Regions from separate parts of the Homo sapiens genome. Here region 1 is linked to region 2. The links come from fine-mapping of genetic effects on gene expression. Tissue or cell type: cerebellar hemisphere. Region 2 holds a variant in brackets; the other region holds the start of a gene. All regions are shown on one strand. Distances are from middle to middle.

What was found. PIP is the estimated chance that this variant, and not a neighbour inherited with it, causes the effect.
Region 1: it holds the start of TCF7, and the variant in region 2 is fine-mapped to the expression of TCF7 in cerebellar hemisphere (GTEx, PIP 0.98).

Annotation. Positions count from the first base shown.
Region 1 is chr5:134,113,275-134,115,955 of GRCh38, reverse strand. It overlaps TCF7 (transcription factor 7), which reads right to left and starts at 1,275. Exons shown (of 10, transcript NM_003202.5): 1 at 801-1,275; 2 at 569-635; 3 at 1-47. The coding sequence starts at 1,049. It also overlaps a transcript of VDAC1 not described here. RefSeq lists a silencer at 1,199-1,318 and an enhancer at 1,409-1,638.
Region 2 is chr5:134,057,985-134,060,665 of GRCh38, reverse strand. It overlaps a transcript of VDAC1 not described here. Among named protein-coding and RNA genes, the nearest start is that of VDAC1, 54 kb to the right of the region's middle. RefSeq lists enhancers at 990-1,586, 1,587-2,185. The variant A/G (reference allele first, on the strand shown) is at 1,560.

The DNA.
Region 1 (2,681 bases), 55 kb before region 2:
GACGGTCTCTTTGTACATGCCGCTGGTGCACTCCGGGGCCTTCAGGCCTGGAAAAACCACAGCTGGGTCAGACACACCAGCCCTGGCAGCGGCTGGGACTGAAGGCTGTCTGCTCTTGAGAGAAAAAGAATTGCCAAGGGGTCCCCTGCAAGTTCCTGACTTGGGAAGGAACGGGCTGGGAGTATCGGCAGTGCCAAGTTTTAGGGGAAGGACCTGGAGGGCAGGCCTCCCCGAGGTGGCCCCTACTTGACCTCCCACCCCCCGCCCTCCAACCAAGAAACCTTGGCCAATTCTGTCTCCTGAAGGCGGCGGATTAGTCAGTCACCTGGGCAGGAGGGGAGGCGGGGATGGCGGGGGTCTGTTTACTCCTATAAAGGTCAGGGCACCGGAAGTGACTCGACCCGGCGGCGCCCGGGAAGCCCGCCCCCCACTCTCCACCCCTGGGTTCTGCCGCCTCCTGAGCTGCGGTGGGGGAGGCACCCGGCTCCCCGCGGTCCTTGGCGTCCCCGTCCCACCGAGGCCAGGGCCTGAGCGCGACGAAGGGAAGCCGGGCCGGGCAGAAACTCACCGTCCTCCAGGGGCTCTGGAAGTTTGTCCGGGAAGAGTCTCTGCGCAGCGTGTTCCCGCCCGAGAGCCTGGAGGGAGAACCGGAGGGGAGTGAGGGGCGGTGGGACCGCGGGGGTCGGGGCCGACGCCGGGGCAGGGACGCTCTGCGCGCTGGAGACCCCGAGGGCCGCGCGCAACTGGGGCGGCGCGGCGCGGCGACCGCGGGGGAGGAGCCGGCGCCGGCGGGGGCTCACCTCGGCCTCGCCGCGGGCCCCGGCGCCGGCCCCCGGGACCCCCGGGATCCCTGCGCCGCCGGCCGCGCCCTCGGACTCGTTCACGAGCGACGACTTGAGCTCGGCCAGGTCGCGCTCGGGACCGGCGGCGCTGTCGCGGCTCTTGTCGTCCTGCTCCTCGCCTTCATCCTGGAAGGCCAGCAGCTCGTCCGGCGCGCCGAGGTCGTCGCCGCCGCCCGCGCCGCCCCCGCCGGAGTCCAGCTGCGGCATGGTGCGCTCCGCCCGCCGGGGCGCGGGGCGCTGGGCGCCGGGAGTGCGGGGCGCGGAGCCGGCCCGGGGGGCGGCGAGCCCGGAGTCCGAACCTCCGAGCTCGGATCGCGGCGGGCGGAGCGCGGGCTGACTCCGCCTGGGCGGGCTGCAGGCGCGGGCTAGGGCGCGGGGCAGAGCGGCTCCGCGAGCTGGCGGGTCGGAACATCAAAGGCGCCGCCGGCCGAGTGCCGGGGGCGGGGCGGGCACTGGGGGCGGGCCGGGCCGGGGGCGGGACACAGGTCCGCCCCGCCTCTCCTCTCCCGGGAGAGGCCGGGACGCGCCCACTCGGCATAGCCTTAAAGGGCTCGCTCTTCCGGAGCGCACCCTGAGAGAGACGTCGGACAAGCCTGGGAATGATCACCCTTCTCCCGAAACGCAGAGACTCTAACGGGAACTCCTGACCCCGCTTACTCACCTACAACCAGATATTCCCCCTGCTTTCTGCGCCCAGGTTTCTCCTCCGGCTGTGGAGGGCGGGGGTCCCCTAGGCCCTTGGGACTTGGGCGTGGCTTACCATCGCAGCCGTGGTGTGAACTGTATCGTGCCCAGGCTCCAATGCGCCCTGTGCTTTGAACTGGGGGCTTCCTAGGGCTTGAGGCTGCTTGAGGCTGTGCTCGTACCCCAGGGAACCGGCAGCGTTGGAACTCCGCGGCGCTGTTGCGGCTCTTGCCCCATCCTCCATCCCTGTGCCAATCAGGGACTTCCTTCTAGGCCGCCTGCATACAGTGCGAACATAAGTATACCCCCCTTCGCACATTTATTGAGCTCCTGTTGCGTGCAGAGCTTATACATCACACATCTGTGACGGGCCCCTCAGTCAGGCGACGGCTCCGAGCCGCGAACACAGCCAAGAGCACCGGACCTCAGCCGATCCTCCAAGTCCCAGCCCCTATGACTCTCCCAACTCGGTTCCGTGACTAGAACCTGCAGCCCGGAGACTCGGAACTTTGGGCAGCCACGTGGGCGCGGGATTCCGACATGGGTCGCTCGTCCACAGCAACTCAACCCTAGAAGTCGCATTTAGGGAGCCCATGACTCTGAAGTTGACCCTGGCCTGACTAACCCTCTAACCCTCGCTCGATCCAGGCTGAAACATCTAGATTTGCGGAGCGCGGGAAAGTGCCTGGATTCCAGCGCATCTGTATGGCACCCGGGTCTGCGTCCACGCGGGCCTCCACGGCGCGCTTGGCCTGGCTCAGCCCCTGCATCTACAAAAGACGCCGGTCCTTTGGATCGCGATGCAGTCAACAGCAGCTCCCCTAGCAGGTTTCTGTGCTGGGTTCACTGTAGACGCTCACGCCTCTTCTGAGAGCAGTTGGGATAGAGGGTATTTGGGGGAGGGCCGGGTATTGGACGCCTCTCCCTCTGAGGGCCCCACAGGACCCCTGGCAGCGGTGCAAAGCCGGGCCGGAAGACAGCCGTGCCTCCCTCCGGGTCCAGGCCCAGCGTGGCTGGCTGTGGATCAAAGAGCTAGGCCATGCTTCCCTGTGTTCAGATCCTATCTGTGCCCGCCCAGCCGGGTGTCTCGGACACCAGCCCCCACACCCCCCTCCCCCGCCACCTCCGGGCTAGGGTGCCCACTTTTCCTCCTTT
Region 2 (2,681 bases):
TCCTCCTTCCCCATCCTTTGTCTTCCAGCCTACAAGCAAGCTCTATTCTGAATGTTGCAGTTATAAATTCTTTGATATTTTAAAATAGGGTTTGAGCTATCATATTATTTTCTGTACTTTTCAATGTGTTTGAAATGCTTCCAAATTTTAAAAAAGGCAAAATATGTCTATTCACAAGTGTATCATATATCTCTAATAAGAAACACGATTATTGGAAAAGAAATGTTTGGAAATGACTAGGAAGCTTTTTGGTTTCCTAATGTGTACTGACCTTACTATTCATTCATTCATATTTCCTGAGCACCTTCCTGGTGCCAGGCACTGTGCCAGGTGCTGGGGATGCAGACACCTGCATTGGACGGGTGGTCGATCCCTGGCTGGGATGAGGTGCGTGCAGCGCATCAACGTGGTAGCTGGAGCACAGTTGCACTCAGTGGTGACCAGTATTATTATTATTAGTTCCTAAGAAATGGCACAAAGTTTCCAGCTGCTGAAATCAGGATCAGTTTCTGACTCTTGGCTTTACTGTGCCCAACATGTGCTCATTAGAGTCTGTATCTGGCTTGTTCCATGTACTTGATGAGGCCAGCATCACTAGCAGGGGCCCTGGGGTGTGGGAGAGGATCTCTGTGGAACAGCCCTGGAGGGCGTGCAGGGTGCAGAAGGCCTGTGGATTTTAGAGATGCTCAGAGTCCTGGGGGTGGGTGTGATTGCTCCTGAAGGAGACACACAGTCTCCCTGGGCCTCTGCCCAAGCCTGGCTTTGGCTCTCATTCCTTGCTGTTTGTGCCTCTCTGCGTCACCTTCAGCCACACAATCAAACATGTATAACAAAGAAACCCAAACAAGACATCAAATTTGGGTAGCATTTAAGTTTGCTGTTGCTGAGAATCAGTTCTTGAACTGAAAGGAATTTTGTTGGGGGCAGGATTGAGGTGGGGGGTATAGGGTGTGGTTGGCTTCATTATACTAGCACAAAATAATGACCCAGTTCTCTTGAAAATTCTGGAAACCCTGTTGTCATGGACAAGGATGCCCAAATGGCTCGGGGGTGTGCTGATGCTCAGAGGCCTGTGGGGTCAGCTCCTGTTTGGTAGGAGCTCATGAAACAGCGCGACGGGCTTCTAGCTTCCTGGCCCTATGAACAAGGCTGCTCCAGGCCCTCCCTGGGTGTGGGGATGTCTTAGAGGGCAGAGGACCACTTCCCTGGGGCCACTGCCTACAGCACGTGGGAGGCTCTCCCATAGTTTCACTTGAAAGATGCAGAATGAAAGTGTGCTAGGCTCTGATGCCAGCCGCTTCCTCTTGGTCTAGAGCCAAGGAAGCCCTGGGTCAGAGCATGTCCAAGCCTCTCTCCTGGGATCACATCACTGAAACTGTACCTTGGCTCTGTGTCCTGGGAGCCTGGGAGCCTCACGTTGGCTGGTGGGGAGGGAAGCTGTAAGAGTGCCCAGTCTGCTGCTCCTGTCTGGGCCTTTCTTTCCTTACAGCCCTCAGCCTGGAGCTCTGGAGCTCCTTGCCAGCGTTGCCACCCCATAGGCTGGCAAAGCCTGCTAGGAC[A/G]GAAGGCCTGTAATTTGTGACTCATGGCCTGTTGCCGACCATGGGTTGGCAAGCCACAATCTAGGCAGTGCTGAATCACTCTGGCTTGCCTGTTCTGCTGGCATGCAGGGTGCATAGCCTCTGCATTGGCACGCGGGCATGAGGAGGCGGTTATTGTAAAGCCCACCCTTGATGGCTGGGTGGAGTTGGGCTCAGCTCCTGGGGAGAGGGCAAGGTGGGGCCAGGGACTGTCTGCTGGGGCTGCAGTTCCCTGCAGAGAGGCTTGTGGAGAGGCCTTGGAGTGCCGGTCACGTTGCTGTGTCAGGTTCAGACACCCTCTGCCTCAGGAAGGCCCTGCTTGCTCAGGTCCCCTCAGTCCCTGGGAATGATAGGCTCCATCTTTGCTCTGTTCCCTATCTGGCCCTGATTAGAATGCAGTTTGCATGATCAAGGCTGGTGCAATGCATGGTCTGCCTAAGGTCTCTCAGGTGGCCTTAAGAGTCAGAGTCCTTGGGCCGGGTGCGGTGGCTCACGTCTGTAATCCCAGCACTTTGGGAGGCCAAGGCAGGTGGATCATGAGGTCAGGAGATTGAGACCGTCCTGGTTAACACGGTGAAACCCCTTCTCTACTAAAAATACAAAAAAAATTAGCCGGGTGTGGTGGCGGGTGCCTGTAGTCCCAGCTACTTGGGAGGCTGAGGCAGAAGAATGGCGTGAACTCAGGAGGCGGAGCTTCCAGTGAGCCGAGATTGCACCACTTCACTCCAGCCTGGGCGACAGAGTGAGACTCCGTCTCAAAAAAAAAACAAAAAACAAAAGTCAGAGTCCCTGGCTGGCCAGGGACAGCCCGGCTGCTGACCTGGGTCCGCTGGCCACTCACTCAGCCTTTTTATCATCATCAGCTTACAAAACAAGGACAGAAGTCAAAATAGTGAGAAGCAACTGGGCGTGGTGGCTCACACTTGTAATCTCAACACTTTGGGTGGCTGAAGCAGGCAGATTATTTAAGGTCTGGACCAGCCTGGTCAACATGGTGAAGCCCCATCTCTACTAAAAATACAAAAATTAGCTGGGCATGTGGCGGGTGCCTGTAATTCCAGCTACTTGGGAGGCTGAGGTGGGAGGATTGCTTGAGCCCAGGAG